Regions from separate parts of the Homo sapiens genome. Here regions 2 and 3 are each linked to region 1. The links come from fine-mapping of genetic effects on gene expression. A gene starts in region 1. Each other region holds a variant in brackets. All regions are shown on one strand. Distances are between the middles of the regions. Region 1 holds the start of HEATR5A (HEAT repeat containing 5A). Region 2 overlaps GPR33 (G protein-coupled receptor 33). Region 3 holds the start of GPR33 (G protein-coupled receptor 33).

The links. PIP is the estimated chance that this variant, and not a neighbour inherited with it, causes the effect. A credible set is the group of variants that fine-mapping cannot tell apart.
Region 2: its variant is the best candidate, but not a certain one, in a credible set for the expression of HEATR5A in whole blood (INTERVAL, PIP 0.63).
Region 3: its variant is the best candidate, but not a certain one, in a credible set for the expression of HEATR5A in whole blood (INTERVAL, PIP 0.76).

What each region holds. Positions count from the first base shown.
Region 1 is chr14:31,415,743-31,423,924 of GRCh38, reverse strand. HEATR5A (HEAT repeat containing 5A) reads left to right here and starts at 3,375. Exons shown (of 36, transcript NM_015473.4): 1 at 3,375-3,453. It overlaps HEATR5A-DT (HEATR5A divergent transcript), which reads right to left and starts at 3,167. Exons shown (of 4, transcript NR_110045.1): 1 at 2,948-3,167; 2 at 1,957-2,081. RefSeq lists enhancers at 3,055-3,204, 3,635-3,684 and a silencer at 3,795-3,914.
Region 2 is chr14:31,476,528-31,484,709 of GRCh38, reverse strand. GPR33 (G protein-coupled receptor 33) reads left to right here. Exons shown (of 2, transcript NM_001197184.3): 2 at 739-1,835. The coding sequence starts at 745. The coding sequence ends at 1,746. Among named protein-coding and RNA genes, the nearest start is that of GPR33, 7.4 kb to the left of the region's middle. The variant TTG/G (reference allele first, on the strand shown) is at 3,602.
Region 3 is chr14:31,487,043-31,495,224 of GRCh38, reverse strand. It overlaps GPR33 (G protein-coupled receptor 33), which reads left to right and starts at 7,186. Exons shown (of 2, transcript NM_001197184.3): 1 at 7,186-7,328. LOC105370438 (a long non-coding RNA gene) reads right to left here and starts at 5,261. Exons shown (of 4, transcript XR_943723.3): 1 at 5,122-5,261. RefSeq lists an enhancer at 1,528-2,727. The variant C/T (reference allele first, on the strand shown) is at 4,431.

The DNA of each region.
Region 1 (8,182 bases):
CACACTGTATATATACACACTATATATATACATATATACATGATATACACACTATATATGTGATTCATGTTTTAGGTACTGTAAGTAATATATATAACAAATATATATGATATATAACATATATAGTGTGTGTATATATAGGGTTTTATAAAAATTAATATATAATGAATATATGAGATATATAACTAATCTATATATTGAATGTATGTATGTGTATATAGGGTGCTGTAAAGAATATATAACTAATATATATGATTATATATAGTGTATGTCTAATCTATATAAAGTGAGGTAAGGGGGATGCTTGGCAAGGGATGTTTGGGTCTGAGCATTGTCGGCAGGGTTTATGGGCTAGGCATGATCACAGGGTGTGGGAGTGATGGTAAGGAAAGAAAGATGAGAGAGGGGCTTGAGATGGCTAATTTGGGGCTTTCAGAACCTTAGTGGGGTAAGGGCAGTATCCTCCAAAGGAATAGATGGCAACTATGGATGATTGCTCACACATAGCAGGGTTGTTCAAATAAGTAAATATCTCAAGGATAATGGGAGCCAGGCTTCTCTCTGTAGGAGAAAGTAGTTATAAATGTGGAAGGGCAAAAACTAGAATGAACTGTATGATGCTGGATTGGAGGTTTTACTGTGAACACATGATTTTTCAATATATATTGTTAGACAAAGAAATATAACTGTAAATGTGTGTGTAAGGATACATATAAAGATGTGCTGTATATGTGTATGAATGTATAAATATTCCCTAACTGCATCCACTCAGACAGCCTGGGCTATGGATATCTCAATAGCAGTGAGCATACCTAGTGCTAAATACCATTCTCCGCTATAAGGAATCAGGGCTCCTGAATAAATGATTACATCCAAGGCTGGAGCAGGATGAGTATGAAACATCTAATTGCCCTAGTAACTAGGGGAGTGCTGAAAGAATGATGGGGATGTGTCAAAAGGCCTCAGAATGGTAACCTGTTAATGTTGAATCTGGATTATGTGTATATGGTATTTAAAGCTCTTTTAATTATTCTGTATTAAAAAATATTTTACAATAAAATGTTTACAGAATCTAAGGCTGGGGCCAGGCGCGGTGGCTCATGCCTGTAATCTCAGCACTTTGGGAGGCCGAGGCGGGCTGATCATGAGGTCAGGAGTTTGAGACCAGCCTGAGCAACACAGTGAAACCCCGTCTCTACTAAAAATACAAAAATTTGCCAGGTATGGTGGCACACGCCTGTAATCCCAGCTACTCAGGAGCTGAGGCCAGTGAATTGCTTGAACCCGGGAGGCGGAGGCTGCAGTGAGCCAAGATCACACCACTGCACTCCAGCCTGGGTGACAGAGCGAGACTCCGTCTCAAAAAAAAAAAAAAAAAAGAGAGAGAGAATTTAAGGCTGGGTACAGTGGGTCACACCTGTAATCCCAGCACTTTGGGAGGCTGAGGCGGGTGGATCGCTTGGGCCCAGGAGTTCGAGACCAGCCTGGGCAAAATGGTGAAACCCTGTCTCTACAAAAACAAAAACAAACAAACAAAATTAGCCAGGCACAGTGGCACACCCATTGTCCCTGCTACTTGAGTGGCTGAGGTGGGAGAATCACCTGAGCCTAGGAGGTTGAGCCTGCAGTGAGCTGTGATCAGACTACTGCACTCCAGCCTGGGTGACAGAGTGAGACCTTGTCTTCTTGTCTCAAAAAAAAAAAAATTACACACACACACACACACACACAACACAGAAGCTAGAATGAATATGAGACCTTGTCTTCTTGTCTTAAAAAAAAATTGAACACACACACACACACACACACACACACACACACACATATCACAGAAGATAGAATGAATGGGGCCCCTACCCACCAAACTTGGGATAATTGAGCATCAAAATAAATAATGATAGAGACAGAATATTGGCTGGTGTGGTGGTGTGCATGCCTGCAGTCTCAGCTACTTACCTGGGAGGCTGAGGCAGAAGGATCACATGAGCCCAGAAGTTCAAGGCTGTAGTGTGCACCATGATTGCATTATCGACCTGTGAATAGCCACTGCACTCCGGCCTGGGCAACAAAGGAGGCCCTGTCTCAAGAAAAAAAAAAAAAAAAAGAGAGAGAGAAAAGAGAGAAAGAAACGGATTATAAGTCATTTAACAAAATAGAAACCTCTGGATCCATACTAATTAATATAAATACATTAACTGAAGATTTGATGAGAAACAAGATATTTACAAATATCTTGAAAGGAGAGTTTCAGAGTCTCCCTCACAAAATACTTATTAATTTACAAAGGGGGGAAAAAAGTAACCACACTGGACAAGCCTAACAGACATCACCTTATTAAAGTAAACATCTGTAATGAGAGAAGTTAAAATCGTGCCACCTGATAGGGTGCCATGAGAAGAAAGCAGCAACACTTCTAGAGTCCTGTCATACCTAGCTAAATGTAATCATGAGTAAATATCAGACAGACCCAAAATGAAGGCCATTCTACAAAAATAACTGGCCAGGAATCTTTAACAGCGTCAAGAATATGAAAGGCAAGGCAAGACTGAGAGTTCCAGTTTGAAGAGTAGGAAAGATACATGATAAGTAAATACAATGCCTGATTCTGAACGGAATCTTTTACCATAAACAATATTATTGGGACAATTGGTAAAACGCCGAGTTATGTAAATGTTTTGATTTTGATGGTTATATTGTGATTATGTAGAAGGTGCTTAGGGACAATGTGGCATGGTGTCAGCAATTTAAATCTCAATTCAGGGAAAAAAAGTTCTTTGTACTATACTTGCAACCTTTTTGTAAGCTGGAGATAGATTCAAAATGAAACTTGAAAAATGACATTTAAAACGCTGAGTGTAGTGGGAAAACGCACATGACTCAAGGTAAGAGGCTATTAGTCTCAGTTCTGCCATTGACTTAGTATGTGACCTTGAGCAAGTCACTTTACCTCAGTCCTCACAGTCAAGGCTCTCTAGGGTCCCTTCCACGTCTAACATCTACCCCCACAGCACTGGCCCCGCCTGAATTTCTCCAGGCCCTTTAGGTGTCCCAGAGCTGCACCCAAAGACTCTGGCTTACGATAAAAACAGACAAAAATAGTTGTGGCCGGAATCTCCGGACTGAAAAACCGCTGTCCTAATCCTAACTTGGGCCGCAGTCTCCATCGCTCTTTCGACGGTGAAGCAGTCACGCCTGCCAGAGTGGGCGCTCGATGGCTCGGCGGCCAGCTGGCGGGGCCTTGGACCAGCGGCCCGGCGCAGGGCGCGCTCCCAATCGCTAGCTCCCGCGGTGCTCGCCGCTGAGAGCTTTCCGGCCACGCCCCACGCGCGCCCCGCCCACCTCAATGCCTCGCTGTCGCCGCCGCCGGCAATTCCAGACTCTGCTAGGGTTAGCAGAGCAGCCGGTAACGTTGCTGGACCGGGACGCACGCTCAGCTGAGGAGGACCCCCAAAGGCAGGCAGTCGGGGATCCAGGGAGCGGGGACACCTCCGGGCGCGAGGGGGCTGTGTCTGGGCTGCCTGTTGGCTGGGAAGGAGAACGCACCAGGGCCGCTGTATGAGTTGAGCGCTCGGGGATCCCGAGGGTGGTCGCGGCAGCAATGTGATCGCGAAAGAAGCCGGTGGGAGAACCGGTCGAGGGGCTAGGTGTCTTGACCCTAAGGGCTGGAGTCCGCCGAGAAGGGGCTGACTGGGGCACAGGGTCGGCTGATAAACAGCGTGGTCCGTTCTTCCTCCTGGACTACGGGAAAGTCTGGCTTCACCTGTGCACAACAGGTAGGCGTGGACTCTGCCCGCCAGCGGGAGCCGGGGTTGCCGGGCGTGTGGGGAAGGTCAGCAAGTCGGAGCCCGCCTCGCCAACTCGCCGCTCCCGGGACCCGCCCTGCGGCGTCCGCTGCGCCAGTGGTCAGCCAGGAGCCGGGCCCCGGCCCGGCCTTCGGGCGAGCTTCCTCAGAGGCCCGTTCGTTTTCTGCAGGAACCCTCAAAGAGAGTTCCCAGAAGGGAGCAGTGGAGAGTGTGGATATTTGCTTTCTAACTGTTGCAGTTCTCTCCAGGAAAGAAAGCTTTTCCTTTGGTGGCATTTGCTTAGTGTGAGGAAACATTTTCTTTCACCCTACTCTCGGCCAACGCGGCGTTATTTCAAGTGATTATAAAGTCTTTAGAAACTTTATAAAGCGTTTTATAGTGTTTATTTATCACAGTAATGGATACCTCTGGCAAGTTGGGATAATTTTCTTGACTGTCAAGTCAGATAATAATAAAATGGCTTGAGCTCCTACATTAAAGGTCATAGTTATCCATTGTTTTTATGTGCATTCATTTATTGAACAAATATGCAGCACTTTTTTGGGGCTAGGCGCCCTTAAGGAATTTACAGCCTGAAAGATATTAGAAGTTTAAGGAGGAAAAAAAGGGGCCCACAAGTACACTTAAGAACTTCCAGAGAAAATACTCCCAGTGAAATTACTTAAGCTGTAGGGAAAGCAGAAGTGTGGTTAGAATTGAGCATTAGTTGGATGGGGAGAGGAGAATTTTGTTTAATTTTCCAAACATTTTAGAAAGTATGTCTTTGAGAAAGTAATTTTAGATAAAGTATCGAAGCCGAGATTTGTGTTACATTTTAATGCCATTGACTTTTTTTTTTTCTTCACTGATAAGCAGGCAGGATTTATAATATAAGAATAGTGACAGTTGGAGAATACTGTAGTATGGATTTGTTGTGCCTTGGAATGCAGTTGTTTTACCTAGATGACTATAGAATAGGAGAATAAGAAAAGACTCCTCACCTGAAAGTCAGGAGACCTGAATTCTAGCTTAAGTTCCCTCCACTATTTATGGATGTTAGATTAGGTCACTTTTTTAGTATTATTCATTATTGTATCTGACTTTAGTCACAGAAAATACATGACTCCAAAGTACCTTTTTAATTCTTAAATTATTAATTAAAATTAACTACATTAAACTAATGAATATATTATCTACAGAAAAAAATTATTTTTTTACTTGTCTTTAACCAATACACTTACCTTTCTTCTTGCTTTGTTTCAAAAAGGTTGAGGTAGTTTATAATAGTCTTTCTTAACTATGAATAACATAAGGGTTAAATTCTGAATTTTTTAAATTCTAAAATTATTCTGAATTAAGCGTTTAATGACATCTGCATTTTTTTAAAAAGCTCTATTGAGTCTTGTGTGGTTCATTAATTATCCCATAGTATAATTGAAGAGTTTGAACAATCCTTTAATGAGACCACAGTCCTCATATAAATAACACTTCTGCTTTTTCAGGAGACATTGAGAAACTGTTATTAAATCTCATTTGAGAAATCAATTAACTGGGGCCAAAAAACTTAGTAAAGACTTGCCTGTGTCACTTAATTAGATCCCTTGTCTAGTTCTAGTGTTAAATTTTTGAATTAAAATAGTGCTCAGCAATCTACAGCCTGTGGGTCAAATCTGCTCTGCTGGCAGTTTTATAAAAGTTTTATTGAACACAACAATGCTCCTTCGTTATGGCTGTGCATGTTTTGTTTTTGAGTAGTTGTGATAGAGACCGTATGGCTCCCAAAGCCTAGAGTATTGTCTGGTCCTTTACAGAAAAAAATTAGTGGACCCCTGAACTAGAGCTCTTAAGTGCTTAATCACTAAATCTTTTGTAGGAGGAAATAGATTAAATTCAGTTTTAATTCTTCTGTTTGTTTGTTTGTTTTTGTTTTTATCGAGACAGGGTCTGGCTCTGTAGCCCAGGCTGGAGTGCAGTGGCGCGATCTTGGCTCACTTGCAAGCTCTACCTCCCCGGTGCAAGTGATTCTCCTGCCTTAGCCTCCCGAGTAGCTGGGAGTACAGGCATGCACCACCACGCCAGGCTAATTTTTGTATTTTTAGTAGAGACGGGATTTCACCATGTTGGCCAAGCTGGTCTCCAACTCCTGATCTCAGGTGATCCGCCCGCCTCGGCCTCCCAAAGTGCTGGGATATTACAGTCATGAGCCACTGCGCCCAGCCTCACTTTTACTTATTAATCTTGGTTTTTCATTATAATGTCAGGTAATTGTAGGACTCATAAATGCTTCTGGATCTGCAGTGTGTAATGATAGAGGAAGGGCATGGTTTTTCTGCTACATTTACCTAGTGTAAAGTTTTATAATTTTGGCAACTCTCTCCTTTTTTTTTTTTTTTGAGATGGAGTCTCGCTCTGTCCCCCAGGCTGGAGTGCAGTAGCGCCATCTAGGCTCACTGCAACCTGCGCCTCCTGGGTTCAAGCGATTCTCCTGCCTCAGCCTCCGGAGTAGCTGGGATTATAGGCGCGTGCCACCACGCCCATCTAATTTTTTTTTCTTTTTTTGAGACAGAGTCTTGTTCTGTCACCCAGGCTAGAGTGCAGTGGCGCGATCTGGGCTGCTGCAAGCTCCGCCTCCCGGGTTCACGCCATTCTCCTGCCTCAGCCTCCCGAGTAGCTGGGATTACAGGTGCTAGCCACCACGCCCGGCTAATTTTTTTTGTTTTGTTTTTTGCTTTTGTTTTTGTTTTTTAGTAGAGATAGGGTTTCACCGTGTTAGCCAGGATGGCCTCCCATCTTCTGACCTCGTGATCCGCGTACCTCGGCCTCCCAAAGTGCTGAGATTACAGGCTTGAGCCACCGCCCCGGCCAACTCTAGCCTTTTGTAAGTCTAGGGAAGAGGAAGAGTTTTTATATTTTCTCTAGCAACTGTGTTAAGTTTTAATTTAGATCTGGTATGGGAAATTTTTTTCGTTTAGTAAACTTCTCTCTTTTTACTATGCCATTCATAGGGTTTATCATAAGCAGCAGTAAGGTACCTTTACTCAAAGCAGGGTTTTTTTTGTTTTATTTATTTGTTTATTTTTATTTTATTTTATTTTTTGAGACAGAGTCATTGGAGTGTACTCAAGCGATCCTTCTACCTCAGCCTCTGAGTAGCAGGGACAACAGGCACATGCCACCATGCCCAGCTAATATTTTGTATTTTTTGTAGAGAGGCGGTTTTGCTATGTCGCCCAGGCTGTTCTCGAACTCCTGGGCTCAAGGAATCCCCTCATCTCGGCCTCCCAGAGTGCTGGAATTACAGGTGGGAGCCACCACATCTGGCCTCAAAAGAGTTTTTTAAACAGGAATCTAGTGATTCCTAGTTGGTCATAAGGTCAGACAGAATATTATTGGAAGTGTAACTGAACAAGAAATCAGACATATTTACAGTGAGAACCAAATGGAAAGTTAGCACTCTTTAAACAGATACCTAACAGATTGAAACAGGAGTATATATCCTGAATCATGCTTGGGCTTTTTTTTCTTTTTTTTTTAATGGTAACAACACAAAATATTTATTTCTAGAAAAGAAGCATAATATGGCCATATTAAAGCACTATATTAATTATTTGCCTAAGAAATTGGAGCTGGTTATGTGACAAAAATGAAGGAAATCTTGAAGAAGGTGATAATTTTAAATATTTAAAGCTGTACATATACTTTTGCCAATCTTAAAACCATCGACCAGATGCGGTGGCTCATGCCTGCAATCCTGGCACTTTGGGAGGCCAAGGCGGGCAGATCACTTGAGGTCAGGGGTTTGAGATCAGCCTGGCCAACAGGGTGAAACCCCGTCTCTACTAAAAATACAAAAAAAAAATTAGCCGGGCGTGGTGGCCGGTGCCTGTAATCCCAGCTACTCAGGAGGCTGAGGCAGATAATTGCTTAAACTCGAGAGGTGGAGGTTGCAGTGAGCCGAGATCGTACCACTGCACTGCAGCCTAGGCGACAGAGCGAGACTCCATCTCAAAAAACAAAAACAAAAATTAGCCAGGCATGGTGGTACACGCCTGGAGTCCCAGCTATTCAGGAGGCTGAGGTGGGAGAATCGTTTGAACCCATGAGGTAGAGGTTGCAGCGAGCTGAGATCCTGCCACTGCACTCCAGCCTGGGCGACAGATTGAGATCCTGTCTCAAAAAAAAAGAAAAGGAAAAAAAAAAACCCATAGTATGGTGCTAATTTTACTAAATTGTTGTTTTATGTGTGTAATGTATTTTTTCAGTAACTTAGTTGTCCTGTATTGCCCAAGTAATGCTTCTTAATGGGTAAATATACAATAGCATTTATATACTTTTCTGTTGCATTTGGAGGTTTCTACATGTTGAATATATGCATATTTGTGTGTCTGTACACAAAATAA
Region 2 (8,182 bases), 61 kb before region 1:
TTCATTTCATTAGCTACTTTTGCCCTCACAAGTCAAATAAGACTCATTCTACATTGCCTTATTCAAGAAGTTTTGCCCATCAAAAAGTGTCAGACTTCTGGTTAACGTCCAAGTAGAAGATTTTTGGCCACACGCAGTGCCTCACACCTGTCATCCCAACACTTTGCGAGGCCAAGCGGGAAAATCACTTGAGTCCAAAAGTTCAAGACCAGGCTGGGCAACATAGTGAGACCCCATCTCTACAAAACAAACAAACAAAAAAATTATCCGGCCTGGTAGTGTGCACCTGTAGTCCCAACTCCTTGGGAGGCTGAGGCAGGAGGAGTCCTTGAGCCCAGGAGGTTGAGGCTGAGTGAGCTGTAATCACTCCACTGCACTCCAGCCTGGGTGACAGAGTGAGATCCTATCTCAGAAAAAAAAAATAGATTTTTAACTACCTAATTATTGAACAATTGTCAAAATGTCCCAACATTTACTTCTTTTCACATTTATTTCATTTCATCCATATATTTCTATTTTTGATGCTCAGATTCATCTGATCTTAATTCCTCATTAAAACATAAAAGTATAGACCTTAGAAAAATATTTGATTTGCAGAAATATTTTGCTTACTGCTGTTAAAATATTATCATTTGGACTAGAAGTATCACTATGTAAAAAATTACTCTTTAAATTTTTACATTTAACCTTTTCTTTTGCTTTTTCTTGTTGTTATTTTCACTGTTTCTCACTCCACAGGTCATTATGGATCTGATCAACTCTACTGATTACCTGATCAATGCCTCTACTTTAGTAAGAAACAGCACTCAGTTTCTAGCTCCTGCATCAAAAATGATTATTGCCCTTTCTTTGTACATTTCATCTATAATTGGTACCATCACCAATGGCCTCTATCTATGGGTGCTAAGATTCAAGATGAAACAGACTGTCAATACTCTCTTATTTTTTCATCTCATTCTCTCTTATTTTATTTCAACAATGATTCTGCCATTTATGGCCACCTCCCAACTTCAAGACAATCACTGGAACTTTGGAACTGCCTTGTGCAAGGTCTTCAATGGCACTTTGTCTCTGGGGATGTTCACCTCTGTTTTCTTCCTTTCGGCCATCGGTCTTGATCGTTACCTTCTCACTCTTCACCCAGTGTGGTCCCAGCAGCACCGAACCCCGCGCTGGGCTTCCAGCATTGTCCTGGGAGTCTGGATTTCAGCCGCTGCCCTCAGCATCCCCTATTTGATTTTCAGAGAGACACATCATGACCGTAAAGGAAAGGTGACTTGCCAAAATAACTATGCTGTGTCTACTAACTGGGAAAGCAAGGAGATGCAAGCATCAAGGCAGTGGATTCATGTGGCCTGTTTCATCAGCCGCTTCTTGCTGGGCTTTCTTCTGCCTTTCTTCATCATCATCTTTTGTTATGAAAGAGTAGCCAGCAAGGTGAAAGAGAGGAGCCTGTTTAAATCCAGCAAGCCCTTCAAAGTTATGATGACTGCCATTATCTCTTTCTTTGTGTGTTGGATGCCCTACCATATACACCAGGGCTTACTTCTCACTACGAACCAGTCACTACTTTTAGAGTTGACTTTGATACTTACAGTGCTAACCACTTCTTTCAATACTATCTTTTCTCCCACACTCTACTTATTTGTTGGGGAGAATTTCAAAAAGGTCTTCAAGAAGTCCATTCTTGCTCTGTTTGAGTCAACATTTAGTGAAGATTCTTCTGTAGAAAGGACACAAACCTAAACTCAGAAGCCTAAATTTAAATTCTAGATTCTTAAGCAAACACGCACTTGGTCAATTATACCAATAGGATATACCTTCTGCTTTTGTATGCTATAGTCCCTATATTAGAGAGATAACTAGGCTGTACTATAGTTAGATTTCTGAGCAATAAAAGGGCTGCAAGAAAACAAGCAATTTGCAAGATCATGCTGCAAATGTGATTCTTTTCTTTTCTTTTCTTTTCTTTGAGGCAGAGTCTCACTCTGTCGTCCAGGCTGGAGTTCAGTGTGCAATCTAGGTTCACTGCAAACTCCACCTCCCAGGTTCAAGTGATTCTTATGCCTCAGCCTCCCAAGTAGCTGGGACTACAGGTGTACACCACCATGCCCAGCTAATTTTTTTATTTTTTATTTTATTTTTTTTATGAGAAGGAGTTTCGCTCTGTCACCCAGGCTAGAGTGCAGTGGTGCGATCTCGGCTTACTGCAAGCTCCACCTTCCGGATTCAAGCCATTCTCCTGCCTCGGGCACCTGAGTAGCTGAGACTACAGGCACCTGCCACCACGCCTGGCTAATTTTTTGTATTTTAAGTAGAGACAAGGTTTCACCATGTTAGCCAGGATGGTCTCGATCTCCTGACCTCGTGATCTGCCCACCTCGGCCTCCAAAACTGCTGGGATTACAGGCGTGAGCCACCACACCCAGCCATGCCCAGCTAATTATATTTTTAGTAGAGATGGGATTTTGCCCATATTGGCCCGTCTGGTCCCAAACTCCTGGTGCCAAGTGATCCGCCTGCCTCAACCTCCCAAAGTGTTGGGGTTATAGGCATGAGCCACTGTGCTGGACCTATGATTATTTCGACTCATTTTTTATTGTGGAAAAATATGTGTAACATAAGATTTACCATTTTCACCATTTTTAGTGAACATTTCAGTGGCATTAATTATATTCACGAAATTGTACAACCATCACCACCATCTATTTCCAAAATTTTTCATCATTCCAAGGACAAACTCTGTGCCCATTAAGTAGTAACTCCCTATTCCTCCTCCCCCTGGTCCCTAATAATCTCCAGTCTACTTTCTGTCTCTATGAATTTGCCTATTCTAGATGTTTCATATATGTGAAATTATACAGTATTTACCCTTTTGTGTCTGACTTACTTCACTCAGCAAAATGTTTTCAAGGTTCATCTGTGTTGTTGCAGTATCAGAACTTCATTCTCTTTTTACAGCTGAATTATATTTTATTGTATGTATATAACATAATTTTTAAATCCAGCCATCTGTTGTGTTGTTTCCACCTTTTGACTATTGTCAATAAAGCTACTATTATTGTGAATAAAGCTACTATTAACATTTGTATATAAGTATTTGTGTCAGTCCTTGTTTTCAATTATTGTAGGTATATACCTAAGAGTGGAATTACCGGTTCAAATGGTAATTTTATGTTTAACTTTTTGAGAAATCATAAAGCTTTTCAATTTGCACCATGTTACATTCCCACCAGCAATGTATAAACGTTTTAGTTTCCCCACATCTGTGCCAACACTTGTTATTTTCCTTTTTTTAATTATAGTGTAGTCATTCTGGTAGGTTGAATCAATCTTCTTGCCTCAGCCTCTGGAGTACCTGGGACTACAGGCACACACCACCATGTCCAGCTAAAACTTTTGATTTTTGAAGCTAGGAATATCAGTTGCCAAATTGATCAATAGTATCCAAGGATTTGAATTTTCTGTCACAGAATCTTCTGACAGACATTTGGACAGAGCTCCCTCATTATTTAGTAACATCTAAATTATTTAACTGGTATGAATAAAACTTAACATGGAAGTGACAAGGCACTTATCTCTTTTTTTTTTTTTTTTTTTT[TTG/G]AGACGGAGTCTCGCTCTGTTGCCCAGGCTGGAGTGCAGTGGCATGATCTCGGCTCACTGCAAGCTCCGTCTCCCGGGTTCACGCCATTCTCCTGCCTCAGCCTCTCGAGTAGCTGGGACTACAGGCGCCCATCACCATACCTGGCTAATTTTTTTGTATTTTTAGTAGAGACGGGGTTTCACCATGTTAGCCAGGATGGTCTTGATCTTCTGACCTCGTGATCCGCCCACCTTGGCCTCCCAAAGTACTGGAATTACAGGCATGAGCCACCGCGCCCGGCCACAAGGCACTCATCTTGTTACATCCATGTTAAAGCATAAAGACACTTCTACTTTAGTGTTTTAATTATTAAGGCATCTTAACTGTCTTTTTCTAATATTTATAGAGTAAGCTATCTCCAAAATTTGGGGCTAAAATAATGTTCAAGAATCTGCCTGTTGTCATAGACTTAATTTTATAAATGCAATAACAATATTAATTTGTGTTCTCTGATTTTCAGGTTATGTTTCAAGCTTTGTGTACTAAGTGACTGCACCTAAGTTATGTAGAACCACATAATATCACTCACCTATTGTCTTTGTATTTAGTTAATTCTATCAATCAATCAATACATGTCAATCAATAGGTAGTCCTGTCAATTCTAAATCAACTGAACTATCTAGTTAGTTCAACTGATACAACATGGAGATATTTGGGTCACATCCCACACTCAGTCCCTGAATACACCAGCATGCTTTGTACAAAGCATTCCAAACCGCAAGCATATAGCCTACGCAGAAATCCCCAAAACGTATGATATGAATTACAAGGAGATACAGAAAGAAGAAAATTAATCTTCATGACTAACTTTTTATAGAGAAAGTAACAGTAGTTTGGTGTCCTAGAAATCCTGCTAATTGACGTGGTATCAGGGCTCCCCTGGGCAATTGGGGGCTTGGTCTCTCTTACTTGGAATGACAAAAGCTTTGGGTAGATGAAAACTTTAATTGCTGACCCTATTTCAAGGTTTTGAAGCTTGAACAGTTTTTTTTTTCTTTTTCGGAAAGGGAGATATGAATTGATGACCAGGCTGTGGCTCCGACTACAGCTGCAATGAGAAATGGATGGTGCTTTTTTCCACCCCACACTATCCCAGGTCCTGACAAGCCCACTGAAGTTTTAGTTTTATGATGCAGGATTTAAGAAAGAAAATTATTGAATGCAACATAGGATTCTTTGAAACAAGATTTGGATTTTGGAAATCTAGCAGCTACAGAGAGTGCCTTTTGTCTACCTCCTCAGGCCTGCTACAATAATAAACAAGGAACATGCCCTGGAAAGCGTGGATTTTGTGGTATTTGTAAGCCATATGTTGTCATTCCTTACAGCTATCTATGTACGCTTTAAATTGTCTTTTTCATGAGACCTAGGTCAGGGCTTTTTGAAGTATTTTGTTCCATCTTTCTATAAATTGTAAACAACTCAGGGACAGAAAGAATTCTATCAACTATAGCATTTCATTTCTATAATATTATACACAATTGATAATAAAAGATATTTAATAAAAGTTGAGTTTGCACAATTACAACATGTAAAGCACTGTATAAATATAAGATATTAAGAGTTTTTTTAAAGTCAATTTAAATGTAAGAAAATAGGGTATAATTAAGAAAATTATTCCCAAATGCATTTTTAACCTCACAGAAAACTGGTTAATTTTTTAAAAATCTACTCATTATAATTGCGTTGATCTCATCAACCTCCTCACTATTTTGAATTCTCAGGACTCAAAAGGTTTATAAACAAAGAGTTGGTGGTTTTGCTCTGTGGAACTGGTACAAAGAGACACTGTTTCAAAACAATGTGCCTGTCAGCACTCGATTATATAAAGCAGCTTCACTATATCAGTATCAAACTGGTTTAAGAACAAAATACAAGGATGATTAGAGATGCATTTTAAATGCCAGTGTAAGTTCTTTCCTCAAGAAGTAGCTCTTTGTTTTGATGAGAAGGATGCTCAGATGCTAACGTGTGTGAGAGGGGTTAGGGTATAAGATAGAATGCTGTGTACAACACAAATCTGATTCCATATCCCTGAGAAATTAGGGGAAACAATCATTTACCAGTATAGTATATGTACCTGGCACTGTGATAGGCACTGGGGAAACAAGAGTGAATCTGACACAATCCCTGTCCTAAAGAAGCTTGAAGTCTAGTGCAGTGGTTCTGAATTTGGCTCCACATTGTAATCATCTGGGATACTTTTTTAAAATGTCAGTTTCAAGGCCTTATCCAAACCAATTAAAACTAAAATCTCTAGAAGCAGGACGCAGGAACCAGTATCTTTGTTTGTTTGTTTGTTTGTTTCTTGAAACAGTCTCACTGTCACCCAGGCTGAGGTGCATTGACATGATCTTGGCTCACTGCAACCTCTGCCTCCTGGGTTCAAGCAATTCTCGTGCCTCAGCCTCCATAGTAGCTGGGATTACAGGCGTGTGCTGCCACGCCCAGCTAATTTTTGTATTTTTAGTAGAGACAGGCTTTTGTCATGTTGGCCAGGCTGGTCTCGAACTCCTGACCTCAAGCAATCCACCCACATTGGCCTCCCAAAATGCTGGGACTACGGTGTGATCCACCGTACCCGGCCAGTATATTTTTTATTCTCAGATTAAGTCTAAAGTACAATTAGGTTAGAAAACTCCAGTTTAGTAGGAAAGAAAAAGGAGTAAAATGGTAATTCCTGCCTTCACCAGTCAAAAAAGTTTTCCTGGATAAGGGCCTGAGTCCTGCAGAACAGTGTTAGGCATATAAAGAAGAGGAGGATAGTTCCTTCAAAGAGAGGAAGCAGAATGTGTAAGAGCCCTGGAGGGAAAGAGAAGACATTGCTATAAAGCAGCACTACCCAAACCTCAATATGCAAATGAATCACCTAATAATCTTGTTAAATGTTGATTTGATTCAGTAAACCTGGAGTAAATCTAACTTCAGTAAGTCAGATTCTGCATTTCTCTTTTTTTTTTTTTTGAGACAGAGTCTTGCTCTGTCGCCCAGGCTGGAGGGCAGTGGTGTGATCTAGGCTCACTGCAAGCTCCGCCTCCCAGGTTCAAGCAATTTTCTGCCTCAGCCTCCCAGGTAGCTGGGATTACAGGTGCCTGCCACCACACCCGGCTAATTTTTGTATTTTTAGTAGAGACGGGGTTTCACCATCTTGGCCAGGCTGGTCTTGAATTCCAGACCTCATGACCCACCTGCCTCAGCCTCCCAAAGTGCTGGGATTACAGGCGTGAGCCACCACTCCAGGCCAGATTCTGCATGTCTTTTTTTTTTCTTTTTCTGAGACCGAGTCTTGCTATGTTACCCAGACTGGAGTGCAGTGGCGTGATCTCGGCTCACTGCAAGCTCCGCCTCCTGGGCTCACGCCATTCTCCTGCCTCAGCCTCCCGAGTAGGTGGGACTACAGGCACCCGCCACCACGCCCAGCTAATTTTTTGTATTTTTAGTAGAGACGGGCTTTCACCCAGGATGATCTCGATTTCCTGACCTCCTGATCTGCCCGCCTCGGCCTCCCAAAGTGCTGAGATTACAGGCGTGAGCCACTGCACCCGGCCCAGATTCTGCATTTCTAACAGGATCCCAAGGGATCCTGTTGCTGCTGGTCCAGCACAAGCCAAAAAACATAATTGCAACATTAAGTGTGAGAAGCAGGCTGGAAACATGAGCTGGAAAAGTCAACCAGGACTAGATCCTGAGAGCCTATAAGAAGGAATTTGGACTTGATCCTAGACTTTATCTTGAGGGCATTTGGAAGCCACTGAAAGACCTTAAACCTAAGAGTGATAGGTTGAGATTTGCATTTTAGAAAGATAGATTGCTCTGTCTACTACAGTAGAGAGGTCAAAACTAGAGGTGGGTGGCCAAATAGGACAGTGCCAAAGTAATCTAAGTAACAGATGATGTGGCCTACTAAAAAAGTGTAAGTAAGGATCAAGAAAAGTCGAGTTCTGTAAATTCTGTTGGTTGAAGGGGAAGTTGAGGACAATTCCTCTGTCAATTAGTGTTCTTTGTTGCAAACAGTAGATTTCATTCTGGCTGATTTAAGCAAAAACTGATTTATTAAAAGACATTAAGTAACTCACAGAATTATTAGGATAGTTGGAGAAACATTCAAGGAGCAGCTCTCAGAAACCATGCCCAAAACATGCCACAAAACTACCCAAATCAGGAATTTGTCACTGGTGTTCCGTATTTCAGTAAATGATACCAAATGTTGCTGCTGCTGCTGTTGAGCCCAAAATATCAGCAATTTGGCTTTACTAAAACTGCTACTGCCGCTGATACCATTTCTGCATTAGGTCTTGAACCACTCTGTGCCTGAAAGCTCTGACAACAGGACAGAAATCTCATGCAGAGCTTGCTTATTCACATTGCTCACTTCCAAATTTAGTCTTGCACAAGGATATCTAGTCAGCATGCCTGTATCCTAGCTGCAAATGAGGCTGGGGAATTTAAGTTCTGATTTCTACATGAGTGAGAAGGGGTTACTCAAAATGTAGGAATTTCCCCAAATATAAAAGCCATTCAAAAGATGATGGATAGAAT
Region 3 (8,182 bases), 71 kb before region 1:
ACAGCAAAGACTGCTGCCTGCTCCTTCCTCTGGAAGCTTCTTCCCAGAGGGGCACCTGCCTAATGCCAGCCAGAGCTCTCCTGTATGAGGTGTTTGCCAACTCCTGCTGGGAGGTGTTTCCCAGTCAGGAGGCACAGGAGGCAGGGAGCCACTTGAGGAGGCAGTCTGTCCCTTAGCATAATTCGAGCACTGTGCTGGAAGATCCACTGCTCTCTTCAGAGCTGGCAGGCAGGAACGTTTTAGTCTGCTGAAGCTGCAACCACAGCCACCCCTTCTGTCCCAGGGAGGTGGGAGTTTTATCTTTAAGCCCCTGACTGGGGCTGCTGCCTTTCTTTCAGAGATGCCCTCCCCAGGGAGAAGGAACCTAGAGAGGCAGTCTGGCCACAGCCACTTTGCCACGCTGTGGTGAATTCTGCACAGTCCAAACTTCTGGCAGTTTCCTTAACACTGTGAGGGGAAAACTGCCTACCCAAGCCTCAGTGATGGTGGACGTCCCTCCCCCCACCAAGCTCCATCATCCCCGGTCAACTTCAGACTGCTGTGCTGGCAGCAAGCATATCACGCCAGTGGTTCTTAGCTTACTGGGCTCTGTGGGAGTGTGAACTGCTGAGTGAGACCACTTGGCTCCCTGGCTTCAGCCCCCTTTCCAGAAGAGTGAACAGTTCTGTCTTGCTGGGGTTCCAGGCGCCATTGGGGTATGAAAAAAAACTTCCTGCAGCTAGCTCGGTGTCTGCCAAAACAGCTGCCTAGTTTTGTACTTGAAACCCAGGCCCCTGATGGTGCAGGCATACAAGGGAATCTCCTGGTCTGGGGGTTGCAAAAAGTGTGGGAGAAGCATAGTATCTGGGTCAAACAGCACAGTCCCTCATGGCTTCCCTTGGCTAGGAGAGGGAGGTCCCCAGCCTCTTGCACTTCCCAGGTGAGGCGATGCCCCACCTGCTCTTGCTTGCCCTCTGTGGGCTGCACCCATTGCCTAATCAGTCTGAATGAGATGAACTGGGTACCTCAGTTGGAAATACAGAAGTCACCTGCCTTCTATGTTGGTCTTGCTAGGAGCTGCAGATGGGAGCTGTTCGTATTTGGCCATCTTGATTTGGCTCCTCAAAGAACTTTTTAATTTCCATTTTGATTTCGTTTTTGACCCAATGCTCATTGAGGAGCCGGTTATTTAATTTCCATGTATTTGCATGGTTTTGAAGTTTATTTCTGGTTGATTTTCAGTTTTATTCCACTGTGGTCTGAGAGAGTGCTTGCTATAATTTCAATTTTCTTAAATTTATTGAGTCTTGTTTTATGGCCTATCATATGGCCTATCCTGGAGAAAGTTCCATGCACTGTTGAATGGAATGTGTATTCTGCAGTTGTTGGATGAAATGTTCTGTACATAGCTGTTAAGTCCATTTGTTCCAAGGTATAGTTTAAATCCAATGTTTCCTTGTCAACTTTCTGTCTTGGTAACCTGTCTAGTGCTGTTAGTGGAGTATTGAAGTCCCCCACTGTTATTGTATTGCTGCCTATCTCATTTCTTAAGTCTATTAGTAATTGTTTTATAAATTTGGGAGCTCCATTGTTAGGTGCATATATGTTTAGGATTGTGATATTTTCCTGTTGGACAAGGCCTTTTACCATTATATAACGTCCCTCTTTGTCTCTTTTAACTGATGTTGCTTTAAAGTTTGTTTTTTCTGACATAAGAATAGCTAGCCCTGCTTGCTTTTGGTGTCCATTTGCATGCAATGCCTTTTTCCACCCCTTTACTTAAGTTTATGTGCGTCCTTATGTGTTAGGTGAGTCTCCTGAAGGCAGCAGATGGTTGGTGAGTTCTTTCTTATCCATTCTGTAGTTCTGTATCTTTTAAGTGGAGAGTTTAGGCCATTTGCATTCAATGTTCTATTTTTGTGCTGGTTGGTCTCCGGCTGGAAGGTGGTGCTTTCCAGAGAGCATCAGCTGTGGTAATATGAAGAGGAACCAGCAGTGAGTGGGGTCCTAGAACTCCCAAGAGTATATTCCCTTTGTCTTCAGCTACCAGGGAGGGTAGGAAAGGCCCATGGGGGGGGGCAGGACAAGGCACGTCTGACCTCAGACTCTCCTTGGGTGCTTGGGTGGGTCTTGCTGCAGCTGCTGTGGAGATGGGGGCGAGGTTCCCAGGTCAATGGAGTTGTGTACCTAGAAGGATTATGGCTGCCTCTGCTGAGTCATGCAGGTTGTCAGGGAAGTGGGATAAAGCTGGCAGTCACAGGCCTCACCCAGGTCCCACACAATCCAAAGGGCCATTCTCATTCCCACTGTGCCATCCCTAACAGCCACGAGTCTGTTTCCAGGCAGTGAGCAAGCAGGGCTTGAGAACTTGCCCCAGGCTACCCGCCTCCCAGCTGCAAAAGAAAAGGGTTTGGTTCCTCCCTCACCTGTGGAGTCTGGATGCCGGATTCACACCCTCGCCAGAGTTCTGGCCAGGAGGCTTCTTGCCCAGGTCAAATTGTTACAAAGTTTAGCTGGAGACTTCCTTCTCCCTGTGGCATCCCCCACCCCACTCCCCCACACCTCTGGCTGCCCTCCCAAAAGGATCCCTGTGGGGCCAGGCAGGAAAGGCCTGCTTGGGGACCCAGCAAGTTCCCAGGACCTTTCCTGTTCCTCTGCTGCATAATTCACTTGCCTCTCTAAATTGCCTCAGCTCCTGGTAAGGTGTGAAACTTCCCACAAACTAGACGTTCATTTTCCCTAGTGGGGTTGTGTGTTCTGGAGAGGAGGGTCTCCCTTTCCCACTTCTGCAGTTTGGGCACTCACAGTATTTGGGGTGTCTCCTGGGTCCTGCAGGAGCAGTCTGCTTCCTTCAGAGGGTCTGTGGGTCCTCTTGGGATTCCTGCTTTGTTCCTGCAGTCGTTCTGGAGCTAAAATTCATGATGTGAGCCTCCACACACTGCTCTGTCCGTCCGAGTTAGAGCTGCAATCTAGTCCTGTCTCCCATCTGCCATGATGATCTCACATTTCTATGTTTTAATATTCTGCATAGCACTGTAGTGCTTGCTGATGTTTCTCTTCTTTCTGTGTTTATTTACTGTTTTTGTTTTGTTTTGTTTTTTTGTTTTTGAGATGGAATTTCACTCTTGTTGCCCAGGCTGGAGGGCAACGGCGTGATCTCGGCTCATGGCAACCTCTGCCTCACGGGTTCAAACGATTCTCCTGCCTCAGCCTCTCGAGTAGCTGGGATTACAACACCCAGTTAATTTTTTTTTTTTTTTTGTATTTTTAGTAAAGATGGGGTTTCATTATGTTGGCCAGGCTGGTCTTGAACTCCTGACCTCAGGCGATCCACCCTCCTCAGCCCCCAAAGTGCTGGGATTACAGGCATGAGCCACCGTATCTGCCTCTATTTACTGGTTTAATGCTCACTTCTCCCCACTAGAATGTAAGCTCCATAAGAATACAGCTCTTATCACTGTCTCTCCCCAGTGGCAAGAATAGTGCTTCAAATACAATAAATACTTGGTAAACATTGCATGAATGAAATCTCAGGAACACCTTGTATGTTTTTAAAGATTTCCAGGTGAGTGTGACTTCAGCCAGGCTAGAAAGCACTGGAGTGACACCTGCATTGTCACTGTCACTATGCTGGAATATGGAGGGTGGTGAGAAGTGACCTTGAAAAGTACAGAACCAGGCCAGAAAAATGAAGCATTGCTCTCTTCAGCTTTGCCTTTAAGCATACTGTTTCCAAGACCCAGAATATGCCCTCCCCAACATCCCTAAGCTATTGAGTTCAGGTATCACCTTTAATAACTACAAACATTAAGGGCAATTATTTTGAAGTACTTACTTTATTTTCCCCAGTCTCAAATACTGTCTTACATGCAATAGATACTCAATGAATGTTTCTTGAATTGCATTGCTCAGAGATTTGCTCCAGCCCACTGGACTTGCAGGTGTTCTCTACTACAACTTACATAATATTAATGTTAGCTGAGGAGAGCAAAGATCACCTGGTGGTCAGCAAGCAGACCATCTGGAGGCAAAACTCCTTATCTGAGGAATTCAGAAGTAATTAGATGTCCTTCCTATCTAAAGCTGGCATCTGGTACCAGGCTTCTTTCCCAAAAACTTATAAGTAACTAGAATTTCTATAGATCTTCAGACTGCATGCGTGTCAAAACTCACTGTGCAATTCTTACTGATGTCACAGCACCAAAATGTCTACAAATGTAATCATTTATCATTACCTGTGTGACTAATATGGTCCAAATTATCCTTAAGCTCCTGCTTGAAGGTCCATAAATACCCCTAAGGAAAATCCACTGCAGCTCCCTCAGTCCTCTCTTGCCGAAGCGCCCGCCCATTGCACTCTGCCACAGTGTTCTTTCCATCTAATACAACTTTCCTTTTCAAACCTATACTTTTGTTGGTAAATTCTTTTTACCACCTTCAAGCCGATCACT[C/T]TCTGTGGCAAGGCTCTGACACCCCACCTGGCATTAGCTATCATATATTTAATACATATCATGTGCCAGGTACTGTGCTAAACCCTTACCTATAGGGGTTTGGGCCACAATCCCAAATGTTGAAATCCTAAAAGATCAAAATTCTGAAAAAAAAAATTCTAAAAAAAATTTTTTAAGTTCTTTAAAGGCATTTACATTTTTAAAAGATTTATTTGAGAAACATATTGGCCAGGTGAAGTGGCTCATGCCTATAATCCCAGCATTTCGGGAGGCCAAGGCAGGAGAATCACTTGAGCCCAGGAGTTCAATATCAGCCTGGGCAAGATAGTGAAACCTCGTCTCTACAAAAAATAAAAAAATAGCCCACTGCAGTGGCATACGCCTGTAGTCCCAGTGACTTGGGGAGGCTGAAGTGGGAAGATCACTTAAGCCTGGGAGGTCAAGACTGCAGTCAGTCGTGATCACTCCACCACACTCCAGCCTGGATGATAGAGAGAGACATTGTCTCTTAAAAACAGCATCAACAACAAAACAAAGTAACAAAAACAACAGAACACTTTATAGGCCACTTTACACAATAAAATAGGCAATAATAACATACATATTTTTGCAAGCATAAACAAGTATACTAAGGACAGTCATCCAGGCACAACATTTATAAGCAGACAAATCATATTCATAAATAACTTACACAACTGCAGTCATCTGAAATACTTATAGAATGGGAGTTAGATGAATTTAACTCCTTGGTCTCTTCCAACTCTAAAAATTATATGCATCTATGAGTTACTAGCCTTTCACACATTTGGTTCAGCAGTACCATCTGCTTCTGCATTTCTGCTTCAAACAGTGGTTATATCAAAACAACATAAAACTGTTTCCATTTCCATAAGTTCTTTTTTGAAATCATCTGACTTGATTTGAAATATGAAAAGTGAACTGAAAGAAGCCACATTACTAAAGCCACAGAAGAGAATTACTTCCTCAAATACACTCTGTGTATTTCCTAACATTGTTAATATCATTGGTTTAATCACCTATGGGAGGAAAATACTCACTATTAAGGGTATTTCTGAGGAGAGATATATAATAATCAAATTTTAGGCTATCTAATGGTTGTACTAGCCCTAGTACATATTTGAGGAGAAAAGTTAAGAACTAGTCCCTAATATATTTGTTATTTATGAATTTTAGAAATTATAGAATTGAGAAACAGAGAGTGAGGGGAGAAGAGGAAAAGCCTGGCCCAAATTCCTTTTTTTAATTGAGAAGATAGCATAAGAAGGAGCCCTTAGCTTTTCTTGGTGAAAACCTTTTGTAATTCATTTAACCTCTCTGAGTCTCAGTTTGCTAATCTTCAGAATTAGTGGGTTTGGACCAAATAATATCTCAGATTGCTTCCAAATCTGTGAATTAACCCCAAGGGTATGAAAGCCTGTCAAAATTCCTTTTAAAATCCCTTTTAAAACACAGTAGCAGGTTTGAAAATTTATCCTTAACCTGCAAAGATCAGTTCTTAGGTTGAAGGTCACAGCCACAAATGAATTAAGAACTGAAATTTAAGCCTATTTTTAATAAGGCTACAATCTAGCAGTTAAAGTTTTAAAATTCTAAGTCTAACAAAGACTGGGTAATGGTTTTGATTCCTAAACTCTTGACCACCAACGCTGCACAGTGGTTTTGATGTATTTTCTCCACTGGTAATGAAGAGATGAAGAGGAAAGCAGGCAGGAAAAAAATCAGGACACTGAGGTCAGCACAGAAGGGGATCCAAAAAAAATTTCAGAGATAGATTAGAGAGAAGAACATAGGAAATGTAGAACTCAGTCAGTAATGGTTCATAAATGCATTACCTGTGTTGGAAGATTCCTTATAATGAGATCATCTTCTAGGATGTAGTAACCAATTCTGTTTTTTTCCAACCGTTCTACAACCATCATACAAATGCAGATTGTTCTGCCTGTCAGTCTTCATCAACCCAAACTGAATAATATAAATCTCTGGCCTGTCCTCATAAATTCCATTTTAATGTGAAACTCAGTATTTAAGTTTTTCCTTCTAACTATTTTCTGTCCAGAAAGATTAGATAGCTCATTTCCAGAGTTTATTTTGGTCTCTGCCTGATATTTACCACCTCCTTATGTACCCAACACCATCCATCCATCTGCTAATAAACACCCTAGAGTTGAGGCAGAGTGGGTGCCTGGCGGGATGACCCAATACGAGAAGGGAATTAACACCCGAAACAAGTTTATTAACCTTTTAAATGAAATGACTTAGCTTATGCAATTCATTCTCTCTCTCTCTCTCTCTTTTGAGAGGCAGGGTCTCACTCTGTTGCCCAGGCTGGAGTGTGGTGGCTATTCACCACCATGATCATAGCACACTGCAGCCTCGAACTCCCGGGCTCAAGTGATCCTCCTGCCTCAGCCTCTCCTCCTGAGTAGCTAGTGCTACAGGTGTGCCAGGTGTGCACCACCAGGCCCGGCTATTTTTTTTTTTTATTTTGGTCTCTAACTCCTGGCTTCAAGTTGTCCTCCTGCCTCGGCCTCAGAAAGCACTGGGACTACAGGTGTGAGCCACTGCACTTGGTCACTTACAGATTTTTTTTAATGCCCCTCAAAATGGAGAAATAATTTGAAGAAGTACTCATTTCTCTATACCTCTATAGCAGTAAATTCCACAGAAAAAAAGGAACCAAAAAGAGGAAAAGACCTCACTGAGTATTTAAATAATAGCAAGTTCAAGCTTGGGGAGTAGCATCAGCAAGAAGAAAGACATATGAAATGAAGGCAAAGTGTCACTGATTTTGTTCACTCTGTTCCTAGTGAGAAATTGATGGTGTAGAGTCACTTTGGCCTGCTCAAGACCAATCTGGCATGAAGATACAGGTCTGAGGTAAGATTCTCTGGACTAGTAGGTTTATCCTAGAGCTATCATCCGAATTGACCCTCTAGGCTTATTGCACATTAGCTTCCCGATGCTCCTGTGGCCTTCCCCTGCGCCAGCAGCTCAGTGTTCCCAAGTGGAGGTGGGGTCTTCCTGAAAGCCGCCTGTGGCTGGGCACGGTGGCTCATGCCTGTAATCCCAGCACTTTGGGAGGCTGAGGCGGGCAGATCACAAGGTCAGGAGTTCAAGACCAGCCTGGCCAATATGGTGAAACCCCATCTCTACTAAAAATACAAAATTTAACCAGGCATGGTGGCAGGTGCCTGTAGTCCCAGCTACTGAGGAGGCTGAGGCAGGAGAATCACTTGAACCCAGGAGGCGGAGGTTGCAGTGAGCCAGGATCACGCCATTGCACTCCAGCCTGGGGGACAGAGCAAGACTCCATCTGAAAAAAAAAAAAAAAAAAAAAAAAACTGAGGGGCTTAGCAGGAGAAAAAGTCTCAACAAGTTATCTGAACTTGCAGAGCTGGTAAGTGGTAGAGGTAGGATACAAACCCAGGTCTGTGGGATGCCAGAGTCTGAGATCTGCCCCATTTATTTATTCTCAAGTACTTTAACATCATTTTAAAGGTGTTTAAGGATGAAGAAATCTCCTGGTTATGTGCAATAAATCAGAATTCCTAGGAAACTTTATATGATATTCAGAATCACTACCAACATTGATCAGAAAAGTTTTACTATGATTTTGCCCATGTTCTACATTACTTTCAGATGTCCTTCTAGAGCTCAGATGCACAATTAAAAAAAAATCTTTCCCATAATTCGGGTATCTAGTTTCTCATATGCACACACATAAAGAGACC